Homo sapiens: one gene and its partner. The protein of the gene in region 2 interacts with the protein of the main gene of each other region in a biochemical or structural test. Each region holds a gene or a part of one and is shown on either strand. Other genes may lie near its edges.

Evidence for each region.
Region 1: the proteins of WIPF1 (region 2) and CTTN form a complex in vitro, tested with the Homo sapiens proteins (one study listed by BioGRID).

The regions. Positions count from the first base shown.
Region 1 is NC_000011.10:70,400,241-70,416,170, reverse strand, and holds part of CTTN (src substrate cortactin), read right to left. Parts: intron 10,907-15,930; 5' UTR 10,810-10,906; intron 8,874-10,809; coding exon 8,787-8,873; intron 8,654-8,786; coding exon 8,580-8,653; intron 6,341-8,579; coding exon 6,211-6,340; intron 1,630-6,210; coding exon 1,519-1,629; intron 509-1,518; coding exon 454-508; intron 1-453.
Region 2 is NC_000002.12:174,575,189-174,591,118, forward strand, and holds part of WIPF1 (WAS/WASL-interacting protein family member 1), read right to left. Parts: intron 12,539-15,930; exon of another isoform or gene 12,285-12,538; intron 10,424-12,284; 5' UTR 10,386-10,423; coding exon 10,335-10,385; intron 6,252-10,334; coding exon 6,122-6,251; intron 242-6,121; exon of another isoform or gene 193-241; coding exon 16-192; intron 1-15. UniProt on the Homo sapiens protein: Plays a role in the reorganization of the actin cytoskeleton. Contributes with NCK1 and GRB2 in the recruitment and activation of WASL.

The DNA of each region.
Region 1 (15,930 bases), on a different chromosome or scaffold from region 2:
ATGATGTAATCAAGATTAATCACCAGCAGTTAAGACCGTATGTGTATAAGGAAAACAAGAATTTAACAACTCTGGTTTCTAGCCTTGGGGGGAAGTTAGCTTTCTGCCGATCAATCTGTGAGCTCTCTTTTCCAGGAGGAGCGCTGCCCAGATGAAGGGAAGGCGGCTTCCGCTACAAGGGGGAGAAGCCCCACAATGACAGCAGATGCCAGGGCTCCGAGGGGGATGTGTAACGGGGAATACATCCATCATGTGGTATCCAGATGATCCAGAAACATGAAGAGGAGGGCAGAGTCCTCCTTGTGGCAACAGCCACCGCTCAGGAAACGGCTTCAGGTGGCTGTGACTCTCCCCATCAGGGCCCCCGGAGCGCGGGGAAACGGCTTCAGGTGGCTGTGACTCTCCCCATCGGGGCCCCCGGAGCGGGCTCTTTCTGCACCTTTCGCGTCTTACCTTTCTGGGAGGCATGCTTCTCAGTCTTCCCCTGGTATTCAAAGCCTACAGCAGACTGTGACGACCAAAAACACATGAAAAAGTGGGGAGAAATACTTTCCAATGTCCCTGAAACAATCTCTCTGAATTCATGACATGACATTTAAAAAAATATGAAACACATGATGCTGTGACCTCTGGGTTCCTAAGCCAGGTGCAGGTGGCAGTGACGCAAGAGCTCTGGCATCCTAAACGGACAGGCCCACTGCAAGGCCCAGTGGGCGGCGCAGGCCAAGCCATATCCCTGGTGACCTGCCCTCCCCAGCATGCGGCAGCAGGGAATGCTCAGCTGATTCATTCCACGGGCTTCACAAAAACTCGCTTCTCAAATAAGTCATGCTGAGAACATTAGTATTAGTAATGAGAATAGCAGTGGCCACCAGGGGTGCACTCCCACCAGCCAGGCACTGCGATGGGCATCTGAGCAAACACCCGTGAGATAGGTATGATCATCCTCCTTTCACAGACACATAAATTCAGAACCGTGGCTAATATGTCACAAAGCCACAATCTGCGACCAGCATCAGCTCCCTGCTCCCTCCAGGCTCCTGATCGCTCCTCTATTAAACAAAAGAGCCAACAGACCCGAGCCGAAGAGAATCAAAGAGGCTCGGGCCTAGGATGACTGCAACAACACCTGGACGCAAAGCCTGGGTCCTGGACACGAGCGCATCCTGCCCCCCCGGTATAGGCTCTGATGTCACTCTGTCACAGTAACACACATGTGAGAAACACGGGTGGAAACGGTCCCTGCTGGCACATTGGGACAGACACAGGGCCATCCAGTACTGAGGCACGTAGTGAAGAGCGACCGCAGGGACTGCTACAGCAAGCCCGCCGCATCCTGCTTCCTCTCTCTGAGAGCCCAGGCTCTCAGAGCATCCTGGGAGGCAGATGCCCCTCTCTGCAGTCCCCCAGAGCTGGAGGGCACCTGCCTGCTACTACAAGTGGCCCAACAGGGCTCAGATCTACGGGGAACGCCCCCCTTGCCCCAACCTGCCCCAGTCCCAGTGCCACATCACTCACCTGATCAACTCTGTCCATCTGGACACCAAACTTGCCTCCGAAGCCACGGACCGAGTCCACCTGCGAGCAGTGCTTGGAAAGTTTCGACTGATATTCGTGGCCGACAGCTGACTGGAACAGGGTTCAAACACAAAGCATTAGACACCAACAACACTGCGGCGCTTCACTTCCTCCCAGAGCAGGGCTGGGGGAGGCCACATCCTGGTCAGTGCAGGGAAACCTTACATTAACACACCCATCTGGGGAGCCAAGGAAGGCGACACGACTCCTGGGAGGCCCGGGTCCTTGGTGCAGGCTTTTTTTTTTTTGAGACAGAGTCTTGCTCTGTTGCCCAGGCTGGAGTGCAGTGGCGGGGTCTCGGCTCACTGCAAGCTCCGCCTCCCAGGTTCACGCCATTCTCCTGCCTCAGCCTCCCGAGTAGCTGGGACTATAGGCACCCGCCACCATGCCTGGCTAATTTTTTGTATTTTTAGTAGAGACGGGGTTTCACCGTGTTAGCCAGGATGGTCTCCATCTCCTGACCTTGTGATCCACCCGCCTCGGCCTCCCAAAGTGCTGGGATTACAGGCGTGAGACACCGCGCCCAGCCCTTGGTGCAGGCTTTCACGGCCCACCCCAGCCCTTGGGCTCCTGGAAGCTGCACACGAACCCTGGACACAGGTCGGGGCCACCAGTGGGGATTTCTGACACGACCGGGCATGAAGAAGGTACACAGAGCTGGCAGCCTGTGGCAGGATCCGTGAGACCCGCTGGTGTGGAGACTGCTGGCATCTACTGAAGTGGGACCTCTGTGAATCACATGACCAAAGAATCGGCACAAAAAATAGTCTGCCAGCAAACTATTTTGTTCTAATAGACTATAAACAAAAATAGTCTGCAAGACACAGGCTCACACTGGATTTCCGCTGAGCAGCACCCTGTTCAGGCAGGAGCCAGCTGCCGGCTCCCATGCCAGCTCATTTCAGCATCATTAATGTCGTCAGCCCCCATCAGCGCACACAGGTTTGGGGACCTTCTGTTCGCCAAAGCCAGCAGGTAAAGCCCAAGGTTCCCCTGGGCTTTCCAGACCCGGCACCCAGCTCTTCTGTAAATAACGCCTCTGGGACACAGCCACAGCCATTCACAGGTGTGCTGTCCACAGCTGCTTGTGTGATTCAGCAACTCCGTTCGGCAGTTCTATTGAGAGACCCTCTGGTCCACAAAGTGGAAAAGATCTCCTACCTCAAAGCACTGGCCCTGCTCCAGTCCTGACACCGAGGCCCCAGGGTTCTGAGGCTCCCTCCTCACAGCAGAGCCGGGTCAAGGACTCCTTCACAGACAGTGCGGGCACATGGCCCAGCAGAGGGCGTGGAGAAAGTCCACGGCACATCGGGACCCCTCTTCTCACTCCCTCTAGCATGTGGAGCCACTCATGCTAACCTGCTAACCCAAGCAGCATCCCACACCGGTGCTGACGCAGCAGGCAACTCAGAGAGTGTCCACTATTTCCCCTATTGAAAAAGCAGGTCTTGCCCTAAGCCTTGGGCCTGTGCTGCGCCCTCTTCTTCCCACGTTTGTTTTGAGGTTGGCAGCTGACTCTCTTTCCACATGAGCCATCACCTCCAAACCCTCTGTGGCAGAGACTGCCCATCCGTGTCCTCCGGGGTCTCACCCAGAAAACAGAGATGAAGGAGTGGCAGAGGCAGACGTGCCAAAGGGATTCCCCAGCATGAGTTTTCATCAGAAGGAAGTTACAGGAAAACTGATCTAAAGACATGCCCAGAATGACAACTAGGCAAAGTTTCCAGCTTTTTGATTGAAAGGGATTCATCTCCAAAATTGCCTTCGATTTCACATTGACAAAATCTGTTATTAAACAATCACGCTGGGGAGATTGTATCTTGAAGCCTGAATATGTAGACTCAGGGCTACGGGATGCAAGGAGACAAGGGATCAAGAAGGAAGCCTGCCCCGCGTGATGGATGCAGCCACCGCTGGCCGCAAGGGAAAGGTGCAGTGTGCTCAGGCCCCAGCATAAACAGAATCCTGACAGCCCGTCCAGGCTCCTCTCGCGTGTGCTTGTCCTCAATGTCTTCTTTTGTTCTGGAAGTCTCTAGCACATATTCCTCAAGTCTTAACGCAGAGATTTCAATTTTTTATTTTTTTTTTAGTTTCTGGAGTGGGCAAGTTACAAATAACTTAAGCCGTTTCCCCTTCGGTTTGGAATCTGAGTTTAATCTATTTATTTCCTGAGACAGCGTCTCTCTCTGTCGCCCAGGCTGGACTGTAATGGTGCGATCACAGGACACTGCAGTCTCCACCTCCCAGGTTCAGGTGATCCTCCCAGCTTAGCCTCCCAAGCAGCTGGGACTACAGGTGTGCACCACCATGCCCAGTTAATTATGTTTTTGTAGAGATAGGGTCTTGCTATGTTGCCCAGGCTGGTCTCAAACTCCTGGGCTGATAAGATCATCCTGCCTCGGCCTTCCAAAATGCTGGGATTACAGGTGCCAGTCCCGTACCTGGCCCTGAGTTATTTTTGACAACGTATCTGTCCCATGGTGCTGACCTGAGCTGAGCGCTAACCTGGCCCCGATGCCAGCTGGGACTGAGCAGCAGCAGCATCCCTTGCTGGACTCGCCCTGCTAGGACAGCTCTCCAACTTGCCGGCTGAGAGGTGAGAGCAAGGCTCCATAAGCCTCCTTGGTTCCATGAGAGCACTGGCCTAAGGGGGGGGCACGTGGCACTGAGCCAGGCACAAGGTGAGGATGACAAGTCCCGACCCTTGAAAAGCCCAGCCCGGAGGGGAGTCTCCCTGGGAAGGACAGCAGGATGAGGCAAGGACAGCTCATGAGGGAAGCAGAGGCTGCTGTGGAGACCGCACAGGAGAGAGGGAAGTGAGGGCTCTTCCAGGGAGCTCCTGGCACTCGGGAAGGCCTGAGCTGCAGGTTCTAGGGTGAGCGAGATTCGCGCTGAAAAAAGGTGCAGGCCGAGCAGCAGCAGAGAAGCCACAGCAGCTTCCCTACCAGGCTCTCCTGACACGTTGCCTTTCTTTTCCCCAATATGTAATTTTCCCAACCCACAGCAGGGAGCCCCATTTTTAGAATAAATGTCTCTCTGCGCTAACTCCCCACAAGCCCCCTAAGCACAGGGCTCGCCTCAGTCTGCAGTGGGAAAGGCTCCTATCTACTTGCTTCGTTCACTGCACTGAACACATGGATTCCGTCTGTCCGTGTGCACACGCTTCGCTCGCTGCACTGAACACGGATTCCGTCTGTCCGTGTGCACACGCTTCGCTCGCTGCACTGAACACATGGATTCCGTCTGTCCGTGTGCACACGCTTCGCTCGCTGCACTGAACACATGGATTCCGTCTGTCCGTGTGCACACGCTTCGCTCGCTGCACTGAACACATGGATTCCGTCTGTCCGTGTGCACACGCTTCGCTCGCTGCACTGAACACATGGATTCCGTCTGTCCGTGTGCACTTGCTTCGCTCGCTGCACTGAACTCAGGGGTCCGTCTGCCTGTTTACACTCCTAAAAGCTACCAGACTTTTTTTAGACTCCAAAGATGATGATTCTGCACACATTGCTCTTCTCGGTGTCAGGGCATCTCTGTGGTAGTGACGCAGCAACATCCATGTCTCTTTCCTGCAGAAGGTCCCTCACCCCACTCCTCCCCCAGGCTATTTATGGTCGTGGTTTGGGGTGCCCTGCCGGCCCACCACATCATCTACTCTGCGGGGGACAGAGCAAGGTGCAGCTCACTGTGACACGGCAACATCATCCCGTGCCCAGCTCAAATGTTCATCTGGCTGGTGCATGAGGTGGGAGAGGGGTATGGAATTACCGGCTGGAATCCGACACTGGCTAACACACTTCTTTCCACAGAGTAAAGGCAAGCATCTGTCAGGTCAGAACAAGCTTATGTTGCTCAGACTCAAAAGTTCACCTCCAGGATGTCTGTTTTACTGAAGAAACATGCAAACACACTGCGATCTCTTCCATCTTCTCTCCAGGAAGGAAAAGGTAGCCCTCCTGAGCTAACGTGGCTCCCTTTCTTAAGGTAGAGAGGACCTAAAGCACGGGTGCAGCCGGATGCATTTGGCCAACGTCCTCAATCAACGTCTGCGTGGCAGTCTGCATCCCATCAATGACAGCTGCTGGGAGGCTTGCCCAGACCTCTCGAATAGAGTGAGCACTGTCCCCAGCCTGGTACGCGCCGAATTTACACGAGGGAGACTGCTCTGATGGTCACTGAACGCATGAAGGATGTTAGCCAGGCCTTTGGCTGGATTCCGTGTGTGCTGTGAACCATGGGGACCTACAGATTTGACTTTGGTCTTCGGACTGGCATGACTTAGGCTACAGACTGGAACCACAGGCATTGACAGTGATGACACCTAGAGCCAGGATGCTTCTGGACTTCTGTCCTATCACAAGGCTGCCTCTGAGGGCCAATCTCCCTCTCTGGGCCTCCCCACTAACACCCGTGCTCCAGCACCTCTGAGGATTCCTAAAGAGCTTTGAAGAAAGCTAGAGTACTTCATGAGTAAGTCCAATCAACAGGGGTCTACTCCGGGCAAATCGCAACCTCAGCAGATGGACTCAAAACTGCTGATCTAAGGAAAGACTGAGGGACGACTCTGCCACCCAGTCTAGTGGTCCAAGCACACCAGGAGCCTGGCATAGGCAGCCGCGGGCCACTTACCTTATCCATTCGGTCTTGTTCCACACCAAATTTCCCTCCATAGCCATGGGAAGCTTTTGGTCCTGTTTCAAGTTCCTTCTCCTTAAGGGTCTGATGCTCTTGAAAGACATTCTCCCTCAGCTTGTGTATGCTTGATGGAAGAGATGAAAATAGGAACAGATCAATAAAACAGACGTGCAGCTTTGCCTCCTGGTATGATAAATAAGAACAGGTGACATTATCTTTGTAAATTTGTAAATCTGCTTATCTGATGTTCACCGATTCTCTCCCTGCACTGTGCCTTCCTGACTATTCTGCCGGCTGGTACACCCACTTCGGCAGTCTGCAGTATCAGACGCATGCTCTGTGGGAGACAGAACACGAATCTGAAGGCAGACACTGGGATCATCCCAAATCCCCGCTAAAGATGGCTCTACTGAAGCCTGACCTTTATTTCACACGCAGAAAATAGGAAAGCTAGTCTGTAATCATCCAGAGGTAGAGGGGGAAACACGAGGCTATGGTCCCTTCCTCGGCCACTGGCAGAAGTCCAGTGGTGCTGAACATTCAGATGATTCGTCTGTACTTGAAGTACTCCAGCTTTTTTATACATTCAAAGATGAGAGGAAAGCGTTTCAGAATTTAACATCTAAATGCCATTAAAAAATTTTAATACAGCAGATAATGAAACAGATGACAAGGTTTGCTCAAATCTGGTAGGCCAGACACAGCTGTCATTGAGAGACCCCAGAGTGATAAGAAGGCCACTTTGGCATTCGGACTTTCTGCCCAGGAGACACCAGGACGCCACCTTTGACATCTGGACGACAATCCTAGAATTGAAGATGAAATACAAACCAGGCTTGGAAACCGCCCAATACCCTTATGAGCAGGAGAAAGAAAGACACCACTCCTAAAACCTGGGAAGGCCCCAGAGCATGAAGAATGGGCTTATTCCCCATGTGTTCCTCTCTGAATCCTAACCAGCCCAAGGGTTTTGTACTGGAGAGTTGTTTTTTCTCCAAGCCACCCTCCGAGACATGTTTTGAAGCCACAGGGAACAGAAGAGATGAGAAGAGGTATGATGACTCAACGAATTCAGGAGTCTGCTTAACGCCATAGCAAATACCCAAGGCTACAGTGGACTCCCAAGTCAGCCCCATTCCAGTCTCTTGTCCTGGGCAGCCGCACGGCCACCGGAGTTCCGAAGCTGCTTCTGTGGAAGGGAGTGTGCTGAGCAAGCCAGAGAGGGACTAAAACTTGTGTATAAAAAGCCACTGGGGGCCAGGTGCGGCGGCACACACCTGTGATCCCAGCACTTTGGGAGGCTGAGGCAGGAGAATCACCTGAGCCCAGGAGTTCAAGACCAGCCTGAGCAACAAAAGCAAGACCTCATCTTTACAAGAAATAAAAGCACTTAGCTAGCCATTGTGGTGTGCGCCCATGGTTCCAGCTACTCAGGAAGCTGAGGTGAGAGGATCGCTTGAACCCAGGAAGTCAAAGCTGCAGTGAGCTATGATTGCACCACTGCACTCCAGCCTGGGTGACAGAGTGAGACCCTGTCTCAAAATAAATAAATAAATAAATAAATAAATCTTTAACAACAAAATAAAAAGCCATTGTGCAGGCTGTGCCTTCTTTTCTGGAGGAAGGACTAAATCTTTCTCAGCTGAAGGGACCGTGGTCAAGCGGGACAGTCTTCCCGGGATACTGAGGCGGTCACCGGGTCAGTGGTGCTGCCTTCACAGCCAGGGAAAGGAGGATCCACTCTGAACCCAGCGTGGCCTAAAATAAAAGTCTGAGCATATTTTAAAAGTTCCTTTTATCTACACTTTCTGACGAAAAAAAAAACTGCCCCAAGAGCTGGCATTTTAGATAGTGCCAAGTGAGAAACAATGACAGGGTTCACTCAGTGCCCAACTCTGGGCTTTCGATAAGAACACAAAGCTCACAGTACCTCACTATTAACACATAATCATTTCCAGATAATAAAAAAAGGGACAGGGCATTTAAGGTCTCAGTTATTCAGACATCTCATACTTTAGAAACCTCTCGCTTGTAAGGTAGAGCTTAGGGACAAATGTTCCCTGATAAAAGCCACAATACTGAGAAGCGGACACTCTAAAATTATAAATACGGAAATTGTTTGCAATGGGAATTTAAAAATTACTGAGCACAGAAGTATCTAAATATACACATATAAACACACACATTACACAAATACACATATATGTGTGTGTCTTATATTCATTTACTGCATGGGTATCAGGTCAAGAAGATAAATGCAGTTTCCACACGGGCTGTCCCTCCACAGATGACCATGGGCCCTGTTGCACCTGGGGCTCCATCCGCAGAGGGGCCCTCGGGAGGGTGGTGGCGACGCCTCTTACTTGATATGCTCCTGGTGCCCGGAGCCCTGCACCGTCTTGGCACCCCATCTTTGCTCCTTCTCACTCACATCATTCTGAAAAGAAAAGCGACCAGTAAATCTCACAGCCTGGATTGTGACACAGACAAACCACCACCCCATCAAAGAAAAACCCAGGAGAGCCACTTCCACTTCATGAAAGAGGAAAGCAAAGGCTGGCGGCTCCTACCACAAAATCAGGGTCGGTCTCCCAGTCATCGGCCCCCGCGTCATCCTGGGCGATGGACACAGCGTGGCCTGCTGAAGCTTTCCACATCTGAAAGAGCAGCCGGGGAGGGTTACGGAGGCCTCAGGGCGCCATCCACAGAGGCCAGCAGATGAGCCCTTTGGCCAAAACTACCGAGATTCTAGGCAACCCAGGAGGACGAGGCTGCAGGACCAGCCAATCCTTCATGATCCATAAGCCTGACTGACAACCACAGGAGTAAAAGAAATTTCACCTCGGGGTTCTAACACTGCCGTCACCTGACGTCAGAAATATACTGGAAATACTATTTGGCTTCACCTTGAGTGAGAAAATTTTCTGGAAAATAAAAAAGTCGTGTGTGCACTTATTTATTCATTAAGAACATATTCCTGTTCTGTTCAATCATATGATGATAGTTTCCAACCAAAAATAAAAGCACCATTTTGGATTATGTATTATAAATATACTAAATGTTACTAATGGTAAATCTCATGGTATGTGTATTTTATCACACATTTTTAAAAAGTGCACCCATTTTGATTTCAAGTGCTTACTGAAACCATAACAATAATTTTCCTAATTCAGACTTACAATTTAATAAATGTTTCAAGTAGTTTATTGGAGAATTGCTTTACTCTCTACTTGGAAGAAAACAGGAATATAAAATGCCACCTTTTCCTCTATCAGGCAGCTCTGCAAGTGGGCAGCCACCTTCTCCCTCAGCCCTTGAAGACTGGAAGGTTTTCTCTGTTATACAGAACAATGGCACATCTGTAAACCCTAACAAGACAATTCTTGTAACTGCAGTGGTAAAATATAAAATTTTAAGGTTTTTTTTTTTTTTTCAAACTATGTATAAAAAGAAGTGATTCCTTTTCCACAGAAATAGTAATACAATTACACATAGGCCACAGAGCAACTGAGAGATTATTTTAAATCAAACAACCATAAGCTGTGCCCAGGGGTCTGAACTGAGGACACCCAATTCACTTTTTCTCAGGTGCCATGTTGGGACTCTAGCGCCCTGAATCAGGACTGGACAAAACCCCTTCGCAGCTTGAGAATGTCCCATCTGGCTCCTCTCCCTCCAGCCTGGCTGGGTCTCAAGTCCAAATCCAATGTGACAGTGAGGGACCAATCAGGGCAGCGTGCTCTCAAATTTCTAGGTGCGACTTTGTCTCTTGGGGAAGAACCGTCTGCCAAGGGGTGTAGCAGGACTAACAGTGCCCCTGGAACCTTCTGTCAATGCCCAAAGCATGGCAAGAATTTCCAGAGTGATCTGCTTTTGCCAGGATTTTAGAAAACAGATGAACTAGAATCTCAGAACGGAAAGGCACAACCAGTCCATCTTGTCCCAACGCGCCCATTTATAAATGAAGCAACGGCTGCAGGAAAGAGAAACGGGATGCTTGGTCTCCGGCCGCCCCATGGCACCATGCTGCCCTGGCGAGGGGGCTGCCCGCCTGCAGGACTTCAGCTGCCCATGGTTCCCACCACTGAGAAGGTGGCTGCAAGAAAGGATGGGAGTCCCTGCAGGGCTGGCGAGGCCACCTTCACCCCCAAGGCAAAGGAGAAAGGCGGCAGGTGTCTTTGCCTGGTACTTTTTCAGGCTCATCGGGGAGAGATTAGCAGAGCACAGTCTCTGCTCATCTTCCCGGACACAGCTTCACCAGCGAGCGGGGTGGGCACTTGCGAGCTTCACAATCCTGTGCCTGGGGGCCCCACCCATGTTCATGGGGTGGGGAAGGGGCCAGATTTCCCCTCAGGGAGGACAGGAATGGTTCTCTTCCTCAATTCCAGAGTTTTCTGCAATTGTCTCCTCTAAGTCATATGCAACAGAAACCTGACTTTATTTTTTAAACAATGAAATTTCCTTCCAGAATATTATCATCTCTCTCCCAGTAAATCCACAGAAACAGCAACCTCCCCCGTTTCCTGTTAAAGGGATTTTTGCCCTTACCATCCACAGGAAAAGAATGTTAGGATGTTCACAATGCACAAGTACCTTTCTTTCCGCTTGGAGATAAAAGGCTGTTCACGAAATTCTGTTTAAAACACAGTAATCCAATGAGGAATTTCCAGGCATTGGGGACTGATTCCGTCTGTAAAAAGATTAAGGGTAAAAAGCTGAGAAGGATGTATGTTGAGCAGCTCCCTGGGCAAACCCTTCTGTGTGGAGATCTTTTTAGAAAACTTCAGAAATCTTCCCAAACGTAACAAGGTTTTGTAATGAAATCTGAGAGGAGGATGGGAAGACTTGCATTTTACTAATAAAAAAGTTCAACAGAGAGAAACTAAAGAAATAAGTTTTAAAAGATTTCTAACTACATGATGACTTTTTGTCTTTTTTGTTTTGTTTTTTTTGAGATGGAGTTTCACTCTTGTTGCACAGGCTGGAGTGCAATGGCACAATCGCGGCTTACCGCAAACTCCACCTCCCGGGTTCAAGTGATTCTCCTGCCTCAGCCTCCCAAGTAGCTGGGATTACAGGCAGGCGCCACCACGCCCAGCTAATTTTCTATTTTTAGTACAGACGGGTTTTCTCCATGTTGGTCAGGCTGGTCTCAAACTCCCGACCTCAGGTGATCCGCCTGCCTTGGCCTCCCAAAGTGCTGGGATTACAGGTGTGAGGCATGGCGCCCGGCCTACATGATGTTTCTTATGAATGCAAACAGAAATTATTGCCTTAATTGCTAGTATGCATTTACTGTTTGCCATAATTCTTAGAGATTTTCACTTTTTATTCATTCTAATTAATGACATTATAAAATAAAATTGTTACTGTGAGCTTTTTAAAACAATAATATAAGAAAAACACTCCTTGAGAGGATCATGATATGGCCGGGAGGAAAAACCAGTATGGTGACTGTCTATCAAGACATGAGACTGGCAGCTGGAGAGCCGAGGAGGAGGCGGGCTGCATTCCTAATGAACGTACACGGTTACCGCGCAGGGAGCAAGACTCCAGCTCCCCAGAGGGTGGCCAAGCACACGACCCCTTCCCTAGGACCACACATCAGCCTCAACTGGACACCATACTGCTAGACAACACACATGGACGAATGAAATCCCCTTGTCCCTAGGAACAAGCCGGTCACAGGCAGAGTGGTTTCTCACGCATTAGGAACTAGGGGATGGTGCCTGGCTGGCCCTCCTGGTAATTAATTAATTTCCTATCTGGTTTCTGACCCAACTGTTTGCTCCATCTCTCTCCCCAGTTCCCTTCGGCAATCCTAACTTCTACAGATTGCTTGCTACATTCTGGTTACTGCAGTTATTAGTGTAATCGGCAAGCATCTATACAACTCTGCCTAAAAATTTAGCCAGGCATGGTCGTGTATACCTGTAGTCCCAGCTACTCAGGAGGCTGAGGTGGGGGAACTGCTTGAGCCCAGGAGCTCAAGGTTGCAGTGAGCCATGATCACACCACTGCACCCCAGCCTGGGAGACAGAGAGAGACCCTGTCTCATACATAAATCAATCATAAAGTAAATAATAAAAATCTACTCATGAGCAGCTAAGGATAGGCTCAGATCCACAATTTTATACTCTCAATATTGGAAATTTAAAAAACAATCACAAAAATAACCAATAGGAAATAAGTTTGATTGTTTTGTGGATCCAAAGATAAAAAGCCTCTAGAGCCCTACCTCAAAACCATACAGAAAAATTAACTCAAAAATGAACTAAAATCCTAAAAGGGTGTAAATTTTTGTGACTTTGAATTTGGCAATAGTTTCTTAGATATGACACCAAAACACTAGAGGAAAAAAATAAATTGTACAAAATTAAAAATTTTGTGCTTCATCAAGAAGGTGACAAGACGATCCTGAGAGAAAAGTATTTTGAACTGTAGATCCAGAATATATAAAGAACTCTTGGCCAGGTGAGGTGGCTCACGCCTGTAATCCCAGCACTTTCGGAGGCCGAGGCGGGCGGATTACTAGGTCAAGAGATCGAGACCATCCTGGCCAACATGGTGAAACCCCGTCTCTACGAAAAATACAAAAATTAACAGGGCGTGGTGACGCATGCCTGTAGTCCCAGCTACTTGGGAGGCTGAAGCAGGAGAACTGCTTGAACCCGGGAGACAGAGGCTGTAGTGAGCCGAGATTGCGCCACTATACTGCAGCCTGGCGACAGAGTGAGACTCCATCTCAAAAAAAAAAAAAAAAAAAAAGGAACTCTTATAATTCAATAAAAAGGACGAATAACCCCATTTAAAAATGATTGAAGGATCTGAAGAGACATTTCTTCAGAGGAGATATACAAATGGCCAACAAGCTCAGGAAAAGTTTGTTCAATGTCATTAACCACCAAGGAAATGCAAATCAAAACTGCAATGAGAACCCACCTCATACCCACTAGGATGACTAAAATAAAACAGCCAATGACAAATCTCAGCAACAGTGTTGAAAAACTGGAAGCCTCATAGACTGCTGACAGGGATGTTAAATGGAAAAGGTCTGGCAGTTCCTCAGAAGGTTAAACTCAGGTACTGTATGACTCAGCAACTCCACTCCTAGGTCTATGCCCAAGAGAAATAAAGTATAAGCACACAAAAACTTGTGCGTGAGTGTTCAGAACAGCACTATTCATAGCAGCCAAAAAACAGAAACACTCCAAATGTCCATCAACTGATAGATACATAACATGTGGTCTACCTAACACAAAGGCATTTTATTCTGCCACAAAGAGGATCCAGCAGTGACACCTGCTACAGCGTGGAGGGACCTCAAATCCATTGCGCAAAGGAAAACCACGCACAAAAGACCACATATTATACGATTCAATTTCTAGGAAATGTCTGGAGTTCACAAATCTACAGAGACAAAAGATACATTGCTGGTTGCCCAGGGCTGGGCGGATGGTGGTGGTGAGGATAGGGAGGTCATGGCTAAAAGGTACAAGGGCTTCTTTTTGAGGTGATAAAATTATTCTGAAATTGACTGTGGTGACAGTTGTACAACTGCATGAAGATACTAAAAACCAGTGGAGAGTACACACTACACAGGCGTATTGTATGGTATGTGAATTATATCTCGATAAAGCTGTTACAATACGGTTCAAAAGAAGATAATGACTCTGTCCATCCTCAACATTAAACCTTCCTTGCAAACGTCAGTGTACAAATCAAGATTGCACAAACGTGAAGTAATCTTGCTGTCTAGACAGAGTGAAAAATTCCTCTACACAATAACTTTTTTTTTCTTTTTCAGACAGTCTTGCTCTGTTGCCTAGGTTGGAGTGCAACAGCGCGATCTCGGCTCACTGCAACCTCTGTCTCCCAGGTTCAAGTGATTTTCCTGCCTCAGCTTCCCGAGTAGCTGGGATTACAGGCATGCGCCATCACACCCAGCTAATTTTTTGTATTTTTAGTAGAGATGGGGTTTCATTATGTTGGTCCAGGCTGATCTCCAACTCCTGGCCTCAAGTGATTTGCCAGCCTCAGCCTCTCAAAGTGCTGGGATTACAGGCACGAACCACCGCGCCTAAAAGCCCCCCACCAGCCTTTTTTTTCTTTTTTTTTTCTGAGACAGGGTCTTGCACTGTGGCCCAGGCTAGAGTGCAGAGGCACAATCTCAGCTCACTGCAACCTCTGTGTCCCAGGTTCAGGTGATCCTCCCACCTCAGCCTCCCGAGTAGCTAGGACTACAGGAATGCACCACCACACCAAGCTGATTTTTCTCTCTCTTTTTTTTTTTGTTTTTTTTTGTTTGAGACGAAGTCTCACTCTGTTGCCCAGGCTGGAGTGCAATGGTGTGATCTCAGCTCACCGCAACCTCTGCCTCCTGGGTTCAAGCGATTCTCCTGCCTCACCCTCCTGAGTAGCTGGGACTACAGGCACCTGTCACTACACCCAGCTAATTTTTCTTTTTCTTTTTTCTTTTGAGATGGAGTCTCAGTCTTTTGCCCAGGCTGGAGTGCAATAGTGTGATCTCGGCTCACTGCAACCTCCACTTCGCAGGTTCAAGCGATTCTGGTGCCTCAGCCTCCTGAGTGGCTGGGACTACAGGCATATACCACCACGCCCGGCTAATTTTTTGTATTTTTTTTTTTAGTAGAGACGGTGTTTCACTGTGTTAGCCAGGATGGTGTCAATCTCCTGACCTCGTGATCTGCCCACCTCAGCCTCCCAAAGTGCTGGGATTACAGGTGTGAGCCACCATACCCGGCCAATTTTTCTATTTTTAACAGAGATGGGGTTTCCCCATGTTGCCTAGGCTGATCTCGAAACTCCTGGGCTCAAGCAATCCACCTGCCCTTAGCCTCCCAAAGTGCTGAGATTACAGGTGTGAGCCACCGAGCCTGGCAGAAGAATGTTTTAAATGACAGGACAGAACCATCCGTCCACCATCAGCTTTCCATTAGCCTCAGCATCTATGGCAGAGCAGGAGGAGAAAGGAAACAGACACTTGCGTAGCCAAAATCACCATCACAGGCACACTCCCTACACCACACTTACTCAAGGGAAACCCCGCCCCCAACATTTACTCCGTTTACTCAAAGCAGTGCGTGAGCAGATGGGGTGGGCCTGGGCCACAGTGAAAGCCAAGCCTGCTCCTGGAGCACAGTCCCCTGCTCTTGGCTGGCCCAGGCCATGGGAATACTGCAACACAAGGCAGCAACCAGCGCTCACAGCAATTCACACTCTCAGGACACCTTTTCTGAGCACCTACTGCGTGGCACAGACTGAAGATCTGAATTGCCGATTATGTGTGCTGTCATTTTAAAAGTGTTTTAAAAACAAGTCCATCAAAATGCTACAATTAAAAGTCAGCTTTAGCTGGGCCTGCAGTCCCAGCTACTTGGGAGGCTGAGGTGGGAGGATCGCTTAAGGCCAGCAGTTCAAGGTTGCAGTGTGCTAGATGGCACCTGTGAAGAGCCTCTGCACTCCAGCCTGGGTGACAGGGTCTCGCTCTGTCACCCAGGCTGGAGTACAGTGGTGCGATCGAGCTCAATGCAGCCTCCAACTCCTGGGCTTGAGATCCTCTGCCTCAGCGCCCCAAGTAGCTAGGACAACAGGTGCAAGCCAACATGCCCAGCGAATTTCTTTTTTTGTAGACACAAGGTCTCCCTGTGTTGCCCAGGCTAGTCTGGAACTCCTGGCCTCAAACGATCCTCT
Region 2 (15,930 bases):
GGAAACTCTCCTTACCATTATCCCTGTTGGCCGTGGATCTCAGCTTCGGCATTCCAGCCTGGAACAATCCTCCCAGACCTGGAGGTCCGCCCCCTCCAAAACTTCCACCGCCTCCGCCACCACCTCCTCCGCCAAATCCGCCGCCTCCACCAAAGCCACCACCACCGCCTCCAGCACCAGCTCCTTTAGGTTCTGTAGAAGAAGAGACACCCGACAGACTATGCCCCCTGGTCTGGCCCAGGTAAACCATAAAACAACAGTACAACAGGGAGCTGGCCGGCTCTCGGCCTCCAGTGGACAACTGGGATTTCTTCATTAAAATGCAGGATTTTAAGAGTTCCCTCAGCTCAGTCAGAACTGCCCGCTCCAGGCAGTCCCAAGCCCAGTGGTGGAAGAAACGAAAATAAAGGATGATTTGTCCCCACACTCCCCACTTGACTGGCTGCCACATGGGTCAGTATCTGTTTGTTCCGTATCCTAAGATTTGGCAAATAGAAGGATCTTCAGGCTGGGTGCAGTGGCTCACACATGTAATCTCAGCACTTTGGGAGGCTGAGGTGGGAGGATCGCTTGAGCCAGGGAGGTCAAGACTGCAGGGAGCCAAGACTGTGCCACTGCACTCCAGCCTGGGTGACAGTGAGACCCTGTCTCAGTAAAAAGGATCTTCAAAGAAAGAGGGTCGCAAGGGAGGAGGAGATGCCATAAAAGGCGAGAAGAAAGGAAAGAGTTAAAAAGAAAAGAAAATAAAATATCTCATAATTTCACAAATATACAAATATCCAGGCTAGGCACAGTGGCTCACACCTATAATACCAGCACTTTGGGAGGCTGAGACTGGAGGATAGCTTAGGCCCCAGAAGTTTGAGACCACCCTGGGCAACAAAGTGAGACCTCGTCTCTACGAAAATAAACAACAACAACAAAATGTAGCCAGGCATGGTGGTGCACACCTGTAGTCCCAGCTACTTAAGAGGCTGAGTGAGAGGATCACTTGAACCCACTGAGGCTGCAGTGAGCTATGATTGCACCACTGCACTCCAGCAAAAAAAAAAAAAAAAAAACACTAAGCAAATATCCACAATTGAGTTATACTTTTTCCCATCAGTATTTTTCATTTTATGTGTTTTTTCTTAAAATTAAGAACAAATTCACTAAGCAGTATTAAGCCTGCTTTTTTCATTTAACACTTTGTTAGCACTTCTTGTGTCATACTCTTTGAAAACATGAGTTTAAAGGATTCTATTGTATTGTAGAACATGAATGTATTACATTAAAATTTATTTAACTACTCATTTGATGGCCCTTTAGATTGCTATTAATTTTTTAATATCATGAAGCCCAATAGTAGGCTTTAGTAATTTAAACATTCTTTGCAATTTGAGAGGGTATAAAGATCTTGTTTTATTTTGAATTTATCTGCAAAAAATTGTGAAAGATTTTGATGGGAGGCAAACAAACAAACAAACAAAAAGATTACTGAGTATTCTGTCTAGTCTTCTGGGTTACTTTCCATTGTCTTTGAGCCACAGTATCTTATCACTCTGAAAGGCATAGAAAACTGATACTAATGCAATGGTATTTGTCCAAAGAAGTGCAAATTAGTTGTGTTTAAGCCATGCTTATACCCTCTTTAAAAAAATTATCTCTTAATTTATGTATGTATGCATGTTTGTATTTATGAGCTTAAACATTATTTAAAGTCCTCTTCCCAAAAAACTATGTTGAGTTTTTGATAAATAGTATATGAAATCTACAAATTAATCTGGGAGAACTGATACTTTTATGATATTTAGACTTTCCATTTGGAGATGTGGTATATTTTCCCATTTATTTATGTCTTCTGGATTTTTTGGCAAAGTTTTTTAGTTTTTATGATATACATTACACATGCTTTTTGTTAGGGTTACTTCAAATGTATTTTTGTTTGCTGAAATTGTGAAAGGGATGTTTTTCCTGTTATATTTTGTAATTGGTTATTTTTGGCACCAGGAAATTGTATTTAATATCTAATAAGCCACTTTGCTATGTTTTCTAAATAAAATTTACTAAAAATGTATTATCTTGCATTTTCTAGTATGCACATGGTCTTCAAATAATGACAGTTTAAAGCCTCCTCTTCTCTAAGAGTTGTATGTCTTATTTCTGTTTTATATAAGTAATTACTTTGATGGGTAAATTTCCATAACAATGTAAATTATTAACGTTTCTAAAGGCAATCATGTTCTGATATTAATGAGAATCCCTCTGATATTTCAAAGTTAATATGAATTATTGGTTTGAAATAGGTTTTTTCCCTTTCTAAATATTCAGTCTGTGGATCCTTCTATTTTAGGTTTACAAGAATTTATTATAGCATGAAATTTTATCAAATGCCTATTCAAGATCTACTGAGGCTTTTTGATGGTCTTTTTTATTTGATATGATGGATAGACTTTCTAACATTAAAAATGGGATAGGCCAGGTGCAACGGCTCACACCTGTAATCCCAACACTTTGGGAGGCCAAGGCGGGTGGATTGCTTGAGCTCAGGAGTTCAGGACCAGTCTGAGCAATATGGTGAGATTCCCATCTCTACAAAAAATGAGCCAAATGTGGTGGTGCATGCCTGTAGTCCCAGCTAGTTGGGAGGCTGAGGTGGGAGGATCCCTTGAGCTTGGGAGGTCAAGGATGCAGTGAGCTGTGTTCATACCATTACTCCAGCCTGGGTGACAAGACAAGACCCTGTCTCCAAAAAAAAAAAAGGGGGATAAACCCTGGTGTTGGTGAATTATTCTTGTAACATCTGATTGATTTAGATTTGTTTTTTGGTATTTTAGTGTTCTCTTATCTATGATGATAAGTGGTCCATAATAGGGTTTCTTAATTATAAACATTTTGGGACAGATAATTCTTTTTTGTGGGTGGCTGTCCTGTCCTGTTCTTTACAGAATGTTTACAGCATCCCTGGCCTCTACCCACTAGATGTCAGTAGCAGCCCTCCCTGTCCCCCAAAGTAGTGACTAAAAATGTCTTCAGACATTGCCACATATCCCCTGGAATGCAAAAATCACCCTCAGTTGAAAACCACTAATGTACAGCTTTCTTTTTTTATGTGCTGCCTTTGTCAAGTTTTGACATTAGGATCATGCCAATTTCATTACAATTATTAGACAGCCTTCCATCTCTTAATATATTGGGGAATGACTTATACAGCATTTGAATTAGCTGTTTCTTAAAATTTGAAAGAATTTGCTAATAAAATAATCTGGCTCCAAAACTTTTTGGAGAGAAAGTAATTTAATAAAGTTTTTATCTTTTCCCTTGCTCATTGAGGTTTCCTGAATAAATATATGCTTTTCTTAGAAAAGTACTTTCTTTAATATCTTAAAACATTTTAGCAGATAACTTTATTACACTACTTTAATTTTAGAAAATATGCTTTGAATCTCTTATTTTATCTGCTTTCTGAGTTCCACTTTTATTCATTTTTATTTCCATTTTCTGGATTAGGTTTATCATAAATTTGTGTTAGTTCTGTATCTTTTCTAGATGTGGAGCTTTCTGAGATGCTTATGGTAGCTCTGCTGTGGAAGAAATAATCTGATAATAACTGACAAGAATTACTTCACCTAACAGGATAAATCATATAAGACTAACAATTTCTAGAAGTGTATGCAAAATTGTTTCCATATAAAATTTAAAAATTTTGCTATTAACATCGCCCTTGTCATTCAAACACTATTCATTGATGAATGACACATTTTGGAATACTGCACTTCACAGGACACGTTTACATGGTACTGAAACTTTAGAGGGACTCCTGCACTATCAGACATCACCCATTACTGTTCTTTTTTTTGTTTTTTTGAGATGGAGTTTCACGCTTGTTGCCCAGGCTGGAGTACAATGGCACGATCTTGGCTCACTGCAACCTCTGCCTCCTGGGTTCAAGCGATTCTCCTGCCTCAGCCTTCCAAATAGCTGGGATTACAGGCATGCGCCACCACACCCGGCTAATTTTGTATTTTTAATAGAGATGGGGTTTCTCCATGCCTCAGGTGATCCCAGCCTCAGGTGATCGACTTGCCTCAGCCTCCCAAAGTGCTGGGATTACAGGTGTGAGCCACTGTGCCTGGCCCATTAGTGTTCTTAACCTGCAACATCTGTCCATCTTTCAGAAAGAGAAGCTAAAGCTGAGGATTAAGCTTTCAGATTATTTTTTCAGTAATTAAACTGTAGGACAGGGCTGAGTTATCACACATAACCATGGTCAACATTTTGACATACAGCCCAGGGAAGTTTCACATGCAAACAGATACAAAACTGTGGATAAACACTGCTGCTTGCAAAGAGCTTGTGACAGCAGTATAGGTGTCCAGTTGAGTGTGTGGACAAGGGCCTGCACTGGACTGTATCTTCCTTCCATCAAGGAAAGCACATTATTAAACATCATGGAAGAGAGAAGGACTAACACTATTTCCATTAAATAAGAGAAGTGGACATTGAAGAATACAATTCTTCAAGGTTTCCACTAGTGGATTCAGGAATAGGTCTAGACTGTCCAGCCTCCTTCAACAGAGCCCTAGGCTCCCTCTTGCAGTGAGGAGAACCACAGGCCTCTGTCCTAGAGGTCAGCTCCTCTGGCCTCATACCAGGGACCATGATTCAGATGGCTATTGGAGGGCTTGGAGGGCTGAGGGATTAGAGGGAATATATTATAACCACATTCGTTTTGTGGGCATTTTGACTTACAAGTCAGACTGTGTCAAGAGTTAAATACCTTAGTTCCTTTTTTTTTTTTGAGACAGAGTCTTGCTCTGTTGCCCAGGCTGGAGTGCAGTGGCACAATCTCAGCTCACCGTAACTTCCACCTCCTTGGTTCAAGTGATTCTTGTGCCTCAGCCTCCCGAGTAGCTGGGACTACAGGCATGTGCCACCACACCTGGCTAATTTTTGTATTTTTAGTAGAGATGGGGTTTTACAATGTTGTCAAGGCTGGTCTTGAACTCCTGGCCTCAAGTGATCCACCCGCCTCAGCCTCTAAAAGTGCTGGAATTACAGGTGCGAGCCACTGCGCCCGGCCATAGTTCCTTTTTGAAAGCAGTGCATTCTCACTCGCAGCACTTTGCCCGGTAACAGAACAACATTCAAAGGCCTTATCTAGGTCTTTCACTTTTCCTTTTTCCTCCCAAACCAGTAGTCCACCTAACTCTGATCCTTCTTCTTCCTTCTCTACTCATTAGGTATTTCTCCCAGAAAGTTCCCTGAAGCACTTCTAATCCTTTACTTTGCAAAGATTCTGCCTCATTATTCACTTGTTGACAAAGATCCATCTGGTGATTTTGGAAGGTCAGTCTATTTCCTGTTCCGTCCAAATGGGATCTGTAGTCTAGGATGAATCTTGGGGACATCTGGCAGGCAAAGGAAGGGTCTAGGAATGTGAGGAGACAGGCTTAAGATCTACTTATTAATTGCCAGTAGAATTCTAGTCATGGATTATTTTTTGTCCTGTTGTAAATGTTAATAAGTAGCTTTGTTCCAGAAAGTACCTCAGACTTAGGTGGGTTGATAACTGAAGTTGTGACCTCATTTTCTTTCTCTCTAAGCTCCTAATAATTGTATCTTACACTTGAATTACACTTTCCAGACAACAAAACATTTTACAGGCATTATCTCATTTGAAGCTCATGACAAACTTGTGAGGTCAATAGAACATGTATTATCATCTCCATTTTAAAATGAAGAAAACAAGGCTTGGAGATGGTACAGGATGGATGTGCCAGGTCTTGAACCCACAGCTTTTGATTCCAAGGCTAGGGCTCTTTCCATATTTTATGCTGCCTCCTCATCTGTGGTGCCAGGAGCAATGGGTTAATCTCCAGAAAGTGTTGTGAATAATGCAGAGAATTGCTGCTGTGTATGTCTTGGACAAAGAATTATTATACTGGCTTCTTGCAGCATTAGAGGGGAACCCAAGCCAAAGCTGCGGCCTACAGGGAGTGATACAGTCCCTTATTTTGCTAGCTTTGCAGCTGTTGTTAACCAAAAAATAAAATAAAATAAAAATTGAGTGGTGAGGGTAGGGTTGATTATTAGGCCATAAACTGTTCCTCTCCATGGTAGATAGCCTTTTTTTACTTACTGTCCAGTATTGGTGCACTTCTGTCATTGGTGACCGTCTTCTTTAGTTTCTTCCCTTTGCTGATATCAGAAAGGAGAGCATTTCTCCCAGCCTGCTCTGTCTTATTCAAGGTAGGCTTCTCTGTATTGGCCTGAAAGGGAGCCATACAAACAAGTAGTCATCTCTTGGGTTAAAATCATGCATTGTAACACTCGGCTGGGAAAGGTTGGGTACGGGAAGCTTGTTGTTAAGGTTCTTGGTGATAGGTTGTAAATTCTCGACAAGTTTTAGACCCCATATCTTTCTTTTTAAGATCCAGACGTTTGGAAGCAGATGCAGCAATAAATTATGTTCATTTTTAAGGGAGGAAGAGTCAGTCCTTGATTAAAGTCTCTGAAAATTCAGACCACAATCTGACTGAAACTAACAGGGCCAGGTTAGGGTGAGATGACTAGACACGAGAAAAGAATTTTAAGTCTGGGAGGATTCTGCAGGACATTACCAGACGTCATTCACTAGAGGGTACCCTGAAGAATAACTTCCTTTTCCCATCTTTTAGAACTACCCCAGTGCAAGGGAAAAACTGTCTCTAGCAAAAAGAGTCAGCTGTATGTTTTTTAAACCCACTAAAGTTCTAGAAAATAATTCCCTCTGTGTATATTGCCAAAGATGCTTTTTTTCTCTTTTTAAGTCAGATTTATTAAGGTGTAATTTACACATAGTGAAATCACCCTTTTTAGTTACAGCTCTATGAGTTTTGACAAACATATACAGTTGTGAAACCACCGTCACAATCAAGATATAGAATATTTTCATTACTTCAAAAGTTCCCTCATGTCCTGTTGGCATGAGGTGTTTCTGATGTTTAATTCTGATGAAAGCTTAGCTCATGGAAATTGTGGAATGGACAAAAATGCTGCTTTAACATGTCTGATTATTTTCTTATATTTCCAGAATTCCTAGGAAAGATCCCTACCTACTATGAAATTGGGATCTTGTTCCTTCAGGGAGTTGGGGACACTAAGAGACCAGCAAATGGACTTAGATGTAGGCACCTGCCTGTGTGCCTGTGTCTATCACACTTGGAAACTGGCTAGGTCTTGTCTGTCTCAGGGAGAGTCTGGCTGCCCCAAACCCACAGGTCCTTTCTAGGCTGGCCCCAGCCCTTCTGACAGGGATATGATTTCAGATTTGCCAGTTAGGGCCACAGGAGGAAAAGCTGGGGAAATGTATGGCTCAATACCTTACCCAGCCTTTAAAAAACAATTTTTTTTTAGAGACAGAGTCTCATTATGTTGCCTAGGCTGGAGTGCTGTGGCTATTCACAGGTGTGATCATCATGCAATACAGCCTCGAACTCTTGGGCTCAAGTGATCCTCCTGCCTCAGCCTCCTGAGTAGTTGGGATTACAGGCACGAGCTACTGCTCCTGGCCTAACTCAGCCTTTTATTAGCAGAGTTAGAGGCAAAGGAAGAACTCAGAAAAACCCTGAAGTAGGCTAACCAGAATTGCAGTGGTAAAGTTGGAAGCATCTTGAAATAACTAAATGATGAAGTATTACTTGCTTATGATAATAATAGTTAACATATACTCTGTGCCAGGCACTGTTTTCAGCACCTTATGTGTATTACTTCATTTAGCCCTTATCAACCCTGTGAGTTATTATTTCCATTTTACAGACAAGGAAACTGAGGTATAGGGAGTTTAAATCATTTGCCCCAGGCACCTAGTTAGTTGAGGAGGAGCTGGGATTCAAACCCTGGCAGTCAAGAGCCTTCCCTACAAGCTGATAGAAGGATAAATGTGGGCTCTAAAATGCCCCTCCCCATCCAGCCCCAACACACCGCTGAAGCATGCTTGTTAAAAGTTTCTCTGCTGTCCTTCCAGAAATGCTCTCTGCATACACAGTTTGCTTTTGCTAATGGGATTCTCCTCTATTGTTCTGCAACTTGTTTGTTTTCAACTTAACATACTTTGGATGTCCTGGAAAAGAGCTCTTAACATTACCTGCTGTCTTCATTTTAAGGATGAAAAAACTCTGAGGCCTAGAGAGGTTAAGTGATGTGTCACACTGGATCTCTTAACAGTTTTGGGTCAGCAACCTTCAGTAGCCTCCTGTTCTGCCTCAAAATTTATTTTGACAGCTGACCTCCCTGGGTGCTAACTTCTCTCATGTTCAGGGCCCTTAATTATGTTGTTTCACAAGGGCAGTGTTCTATGATGGCCACCAACCCACCTTTTCCCTTTCTTCATCTCTATATTCTATTTATCCAAAATCTTGCTTTGAATTAGGTAACAACGGATAGAAATGAGTTGATAAGATAAGCAAGGTTTCCCAAACTTCAAGCATTCTGGTATAAGATTCATGATTTTTGTCATCTTCTCATACCACCTGTGTTATTTATTTAATATTTTTTATTAAGTCAGTTCACTATAGCCCACACTTTTGGGGAAACATGGATAAATGAATCCTGCTATGTAAGCCAGATTGGAGGTTCTCAAACTTACCCATGTGAAGGACCAACTTTTTTTTTGTTTTTTGTTTTTTTGCGACAGAGTCTTGCTCTATCACCCAGGCTGGAGTGCAGTAGTGCAATCACAGCTCACTGCAGCCTTGACCTCCTGGGCTCAAACAATCCTCCCATCTCTGCCTCCAGAGTAGCTGGGACTATAAGCACGCACCGCCATGTCTGGCTGGCTAATTTTTAACATTTTTTTTGTAGATATGGGGGTCTCGCCATGTTGCCCAGGCTGGTCTCGAACTCCTGGGCTCAAGTTATCCTTCCAAAGTGCACGCCTGGCCAAGGACCAGTCTTTTGAAAAATATTTTCATCAGGAACTGACGCTTTTGTAAAATAACAATGAATTATTAGAAAAATGAATTAGTTTTTTAAAAAAGACACACAACATCCAATCTTAGAAACAGAAAACTACTGTCAAATTGCTAGAAATGCTTCTAAATGCTTACTTTCAACTTTTGTCCTCATCACTTTGGGGACTCTTAAAAAGCAGTTGGAAGGCCACACTCTGAGTAACAATAAGCTAATTAATAGGCAGTTCTTCTCACTAGGTTTCAACCTCAGATGAGTTATATAAATGTGTCTCATGGAAACCTGGGGCAAGAAACTTTCTCTCCAAGCCTCAGTTTCCCCATGTGAAAATGGTGAAAATGAAGGAACCATCAGTGTGAGGCTCCTCCTCAGTGAAGGCTTCACAAGCTGGAGAGGGCTTTGTAACAGAGCGTATCTTGGGGCCTTTCCATATGACCAAGTGGAGAGTTGCCAAATTCCTGAAGAGGGCACACTAACTTCCCCAAAGAGGTCTATCAAAGGAGCAGGATGAGCCGGGCACAGTGGCTCACGCCTGTAATCCCAGCACTTTGGGAGGCCGAGGTGGGTGGATCAACTGAGGTTAGGAGTTCAAGACAAGCCTGGCCAACATGGTGAAACCCCGTCCATACTAAAAATACAAAAATTAGCTGGGCATGGTGGTGCTTGCCTTTAGTCCCAGCTACTTGGGAGGCTGAGGCAGGAGAATCACTTGAACGGGAGGTGGAAGTTGCGGTGAGCTGAGATCGTGCCATTGCACTCCAGCCTGGGTGACAGAGCGAGACTCAAAAAAAAAAAAAAGACCAGGATGAATCCACTGAAGAAATTCTTTCAGGAAATAAACATCTAAATGCCTAAATGCAAGTATAGATTTAAAGGAGGATGTGAATGTGTATGGCAGAGGTGGTGGAGGGAGATATTTGTCAAAAACAGATTGGGAAGAAGAGGGGAAAAGGCAGAAAAAAAGAAAGGAGTGAGACCGGAAGACACTTTAATGGAATGCACTGCAGGCAGAGACCTGGGTTTCTAGACCGTCCAGCCCAGAAGTTAAAGGCCAGACATTGAGTTCATCTGAATGAAAACAGTGCACACTGGTCTCAGAACTGATCCTGCAAACCCTATCTTGGGCCAGCACATGTCCCTGCGCAGATGCGGCAGAAAACACCTCATCAGCCACATTCCACCCTTGTACTATCCATCACACGAGACCTTAAACAAACAAAACCCTTCGTGTTGTTTGTATTTGCTGGGTTTCAGGATTTGGCTTACCCTGGGCACTGGGAAAGCCTGTTGTATCACATGTGAGCCAGAATGCAAACACATTTAATACAAACACATGCACGCCAGGTTTTGGCTTCATTTGGCTTGCTTTATGCATAGAAAGTGTTTGGGGAGGAGACACTCACCAGTGCAAACGTCGGGGGCGGCGGGGGTGCTGGAGGGGGAGGGACAGGCATCTTGGGCAGTTATGCGTTCAACAGTCTTGCTGATAAATCTGGAAAAACAAGAATGCGATCATGTATTAGATGTAATCTTAGTAATACTGTCCTAATCTGTCTTCACTTTCCCACCAAAGTGACAGCTCCACCTAGCTCAACTCTTAGAAGAGATGGGCTTACCTTTACACCTCACTGCTAAAACATTACTGTTCTGGAAGGATCCCGGCAGAGGGGCTTCTGACCCGAGGTGCTTGGAGAGAATGGAGGCCACATCCAGTGCCTTACTCGGCTCCATTCCCCCACCCACTACAGTAGGCCATGACCGACCCAGGTGGGCCCAGTTAAGCAGGAAGGTCTCACACAACTGCTAGGATGTATCCTGGCCAAGTTTCACTGAAAACAAATTCACTTCAAGTGGCTTCTCCTCTTCGCTAATTTCCATGACAATCCTTTCATGCTCTCCCACCCCCTCTGGCTTTCTCCTCCCATTCTTCCTGACATTCGCCAAGTCTGTGTGTGCACTGCAGGAATATGAAAATGAATCTACTTCTAGTCCCGCCCTCAAAGTTCCTAGTCCTCCAGGGAGAGGGCATGGAGAATGTCAGGTGGAAAGCAGGGAGCAGCAGCTGAGGCGGGGTGGACGTGTGGGGGGTCAACCTTATGTTTGGAGCACTCAAAGACCAGCCATCCCTATCTCTGTGCTCCTTAGCATTTCCTCAGAGGATCTAAGCGAAAACAGAGCGGGCATGAGAAGTCAGACCTAGGACTCCCAGGCTGTTTACCAGAAATGCATTTCATTTAGAAGAGCCTGTCTTAGCTTTGTTTGGGTAAAAAATTATATATAAATAAAATAAAAAAGAAGAGCCTTTCTGCAGAGTGTGCTTGCTCTGAAAACAAAGGGAAGACCAGATTCCGTAGCTGGGTAGGAAAGTTTAGGGACCCCAGGTGGGTGAGGGGGCAGGGCGGAGAGGGCAGCCTGGCAAACACCAGGGCCAGGAGAGACGATGGCCAGGAAGTGCCTGGTGAGTTACACCAGCCAGGAGCCCTCTCCCCATTTCCTCTAATCCTTGCAGTCCTGTTCCTTCGCCTCACTAGAACCCCTGCTCCCTCTGCCCTGTCTAGGACAACGCCTCACCCACTGTTCTCATCCCTAAGCAATGCCAGCTTCTCCCACCCCATCCTTGCTACACAAACTGTGGTCCTGGATAGGCAGCGTGGGCACCACCCAGAAGCTGTTAGAAATGTCAACTCCCAGTCCCTTTTGCCCCCAGCTGAATTCGTTTCAGCATTTTAACAAGATCCCTGGGTGATTCATACGCACTAAAGCCCTATGTAGAGATCGAGCCTTAAGCCAGCGGGCAGTCTGGGTCACTGGCCACCTGAATAACATTATTTCTACAGGACATGTGTCCCAAATTTTAAACTGCAGAATTATATTTCTTTAAAAAATTTTTTTAAATTTTTTTTTGGAGATGAGGTCTTGCTCTGTCACACAGGCTGGAATGCAGTGGCATAATCATAGCTTACTGTTGCCTCAAATTCCTGGGCCTAAGCAATCCTCCTGCCTCACTCCTGAGTAGCTTAGCTAGGACTGCAGGCATATGCCACCACGCCTGGCTAATTTATTTTTATCTTTTATTTTTGTTGTGATGGGTCTTGCTATGTTGCCCAGGCTAGTTTTGAACTCCTGGCCTCATGCGATCCTCCTGCCTTAGCCTCCCATAGTGCTGGGATTACAGGTGTGAGCCACTGTGTCAGGCTTTTTAAACTCCCAATAGTCCCTTAATTGCAAAAAACAATTTCTTAGAATTTAAAATATTCATTTAGTTCAACCACTACAAGTTAATGTGGAAAACTGAAACCTAAACAAATACTTTCTATTGAGATAATGCTAAATGGCTTGCTTTCTGTGAACAGAAATGGACTGGAGAAGCTAAAAAAGACACTGCTGGACTTGTCACAGCCGCCGGGAAACAAGAATTAAGACAGTTCGGAAGAGTCCCATTCAAAGTGGGCGGTCTAGAAAATGAAAATTTTAAATTCCACAGCAGCAACAGCAGCTCTCATGTATGGAGAATCTGCTGGATCCAGGGCTCTATCCTTGCGTGGTCTCTGACTCCTAAGACAGCGGAAGCCAGCATCGCTGTGCTCATTTGATAGACTCAGAGAAATTAAATCACTCCCTAAAACACCCTGAAGCAATTCATTCAGTCATGTCCTTTTGCTTCCTGCTCTTCTGCTGGATAACACTGCCTCACTCACTCACTGCCCTTTTAATGGTCTGATAAACACTTTCAGGCAGGCGAATTAGTGCCACAGCTCACCTGTTAACTAGGCTGGAATCTGTTTTCAGTAAGAGACTGTCTCAGGCAAGGATTCTTTTAAAGTCTGTTTCTTAAATTGCTCTTTCTGGCATGACATCAATTAGTCACCCATAGGGCCACATGGGCATTGTGAGCAGGACTGGGTGCCTGTGTTAGGGGGTCCTCCATCAAGGGGCATCTCCAGCGGCACATTCAGAGGCCTTGGAGTCAGACGTCTCCTAGGACCAGCAGGAACGAAAGGGATCTGATTCAGGCCTGACTACTGCGAAAGATGCTGGAGCCAAATCAATGGTATGATCAGAGTTGGGAAAGGCTTACCAAGGAAGGGGGATAGCCTGGTCTGCCCGGTGGGCCCAAGAGATGGGCTGTGGGAACAGTGCATCCACGTGCTTGGTTGATGAAAAATCCCTCAAGACTATTTTGTCTGACTCCACGTTCACCGATTAACTTTCTGTCATTCTGTGATCCTAATATCTAGGAAAGGGTGGATATTCTGGTCAACTAACAGGAACCTCTTATGGGTATGGTTGTCATGAGTTCGGCTCTCGTAACAGAGATCAAATTGAACTTCTGTCCTGCACAGCTTAGGGGGCAGACTGTGGAATGGGGACCCTTTCAGGGGCTGCCACCCTGAAAGGCCTCCTTAATTATTTTACAATTCTCTGTTGCTGCTGTTTTAGTACTGTCTGTGCACTAACTGACTTGTATATTAACTTCTGGATGACAGCTCCAGGGAGGGCGTGTTAACTTCATGGTCCAGAGGGCTAGTGTGGGAGAAATGGCAACAGTCATGGCTGGGGCCAGAGCCAAGGCCAGATTGCAGAAATTAGCAGGCAAAAACAAGGTTCAGGGAGCAAGATGCTATTAAAGGGTCTGAGGTATTGAAAGAAGTGCTGCCTTTCCTTCCTGGCCACTTCAGATGGACAGTGGGGAGAGGGTCTACGGGTGAGGGCTCTCACTTTTTAGAGGGTGATGCAGAACTAAGTGCTCTTTCCTCTCTTCCTCTGCGAACTTGTTTGCATGGCTTGCTTTCCCTGGCCCCATCTCTCACTCCCCTCCAGATTAACTGTCCCTTTCCAATCTCAATGGTAACACAGATGAGGGAGGCTGCCATGTCCTCTCTCCTCCCTTCTAGCTGAACAACTGCTGGGCACGGTCTGGACTTCTCCAGGCTGGGGCCTCAAGGGAAGTGTGTGAGAAACCCCAGACTCCAATACTGCCACCTCACTCAGCCCCTGGATCAAAGACCAAGCTCGTGTGCCCCAACACTGGGCCCACCGGCCACACCAGGCCCACTTCTTGGCTGTCTTTCCACCAGCCTATGGACTCCATGGGGTCTTGCCAATACCTGGCACAAAGTAGGGTTCTTACTAAATATATATGCAGTGAAAGAACTGTGTATCACACAAACAAGCCGAGTGCTTGCCACTTGAAGGGCTCCCAGCATCACCCCACCGCACTGTGAGATCTGGGCAAAAGAATCAGCCCTATTTCAGAGGGGCTTGCTAGTGTTGCAGACTGGAACTTACTTTCCTGGCAGCCTCCAACTTCCCCAGAGAAGTAGAGCCCCAAGGCCCTGGGAGAGGAGGGCTTCCCTCCTCTCATGGACTTGACAGCCCACATCAGAGCCACAGCCAGATCTTACTGAAGGCCTTGGCCCTAGAGCACGGATCCTAACAGACCAGGCATTCCTGCCTGGATCCTCACACCCAGAGTCTGTGGATAGAATTCAAGGGTTCATGAACTTGTATGAAAAAAAAGTACATATTATTTCTACTAAGCACTAACTGAAATGTAGCATTTCCTTTGATTATGAATGCAGGCCACAAACCATAATATCTGATATTCTTTCACCCATAGTTTTCACGTGATATTTCACATCATATTACAACTACACACCAACAATTTTCAACATGCTGGCAACGTTTAGATCCATTGCTAGATCTTGTTGTTTAAACCATTAATAAAGAAGTACATATTTTAATAAATTAGTTTCCTTTGTAATTCTCTGTATTTTATTTTATGCATTTAAACGTAGACACAAAAGGGTCCCTTTGGGACTGGGAGTGGTGACTTATGCCTATAATCCCAACACTTTGGGTGGTCAAGGTGGGAGGACTGCTTGAGCCCAGGAGTTTAAGACTAGCTTGGGCTACAAAGTGAGCCCTTTATCTCTAAAAATAAAATAAAATAAAATAAAAACAAATTAAAATTAAATTTTTTAAAAAAAGGAGTCCTTTGGGCTTTACCAGTGGGTTTATAGAATGAAAAAGGGAGAACATGAGACCTTGGTCAGGCAAATTTGGTTCTGAATCCTTGCTCTGCCACCTGGCAGATTCAGATGGGAATTTGTTTTTCCCATCTGTTAAATGGGAAGTTGCTGAGCAGATTAAATGAAATGGTGTGTGCAAGGCTTTCAGCATGGCCTGGGGGAGCAAAGCTGTCAGTGGACAGGGCTTAGCTCTGTCCTTCAGAGGGTGAGGATGGGTCCTGCTGGTACAAGCTGCTGAGTGCCTGGCAGAGGAGGGATGGACCTGGAGGCTAGTCTGAGGGGCCACAGCTTTGCTCAGTGGCTGTGGGTGGATCTGCCTGGGTGGGAATGAGGCTGACTGATGACTGGGCCTCCCAGCATTTGGTTCTTCCCTTGGAGATGGGAGCATGGCAGGAAAGGCAGCTGATTCGGGTGCAGGAGAGACGCAAGAAGGGAAGGGACTCAGCAGCAGTTTCCCAGTGTGGTCAGTCATCTCCTGCATCAGAATCTGCTGTGCCTGTGTCCGGCTTCCCAGACTAGTTGGGCTCTCAGTAGTGTCGGATCACATGCCTACCCACTTGCTGGGCCTTGCCCTCCTACCCCACCCCAACCCAAGCAATGAACTTTTAAGAAGTCACACTTTTCAGAATTAATTTCTTTTTAAGAATAATTTCAATGTTAAGTAACTTTCATGATAGAAAAGCCAGACTTTCTAAAATCTTTACTTGGTGTGTTGACTTCTACAAACACAAAGAAAACTCAAGGGACAGAAAAGGCTTTTGTTTTCACATACAGTATTACGGTCTGAACTATGTCCCCTGCAAAAGTGATATGCTGAATTCCTGACCCTCAGGACCTCAGAAGGCAACTGTATTTGGAGATAGGGTCTTTAAAGAGGTGATTAAGCTAAAATGAGGCCATTGGGTGAGATCTTAATCCAATTTGACTGGTGTCCTCATACAAAGAGGAAGAGACATCAGGCATGTGC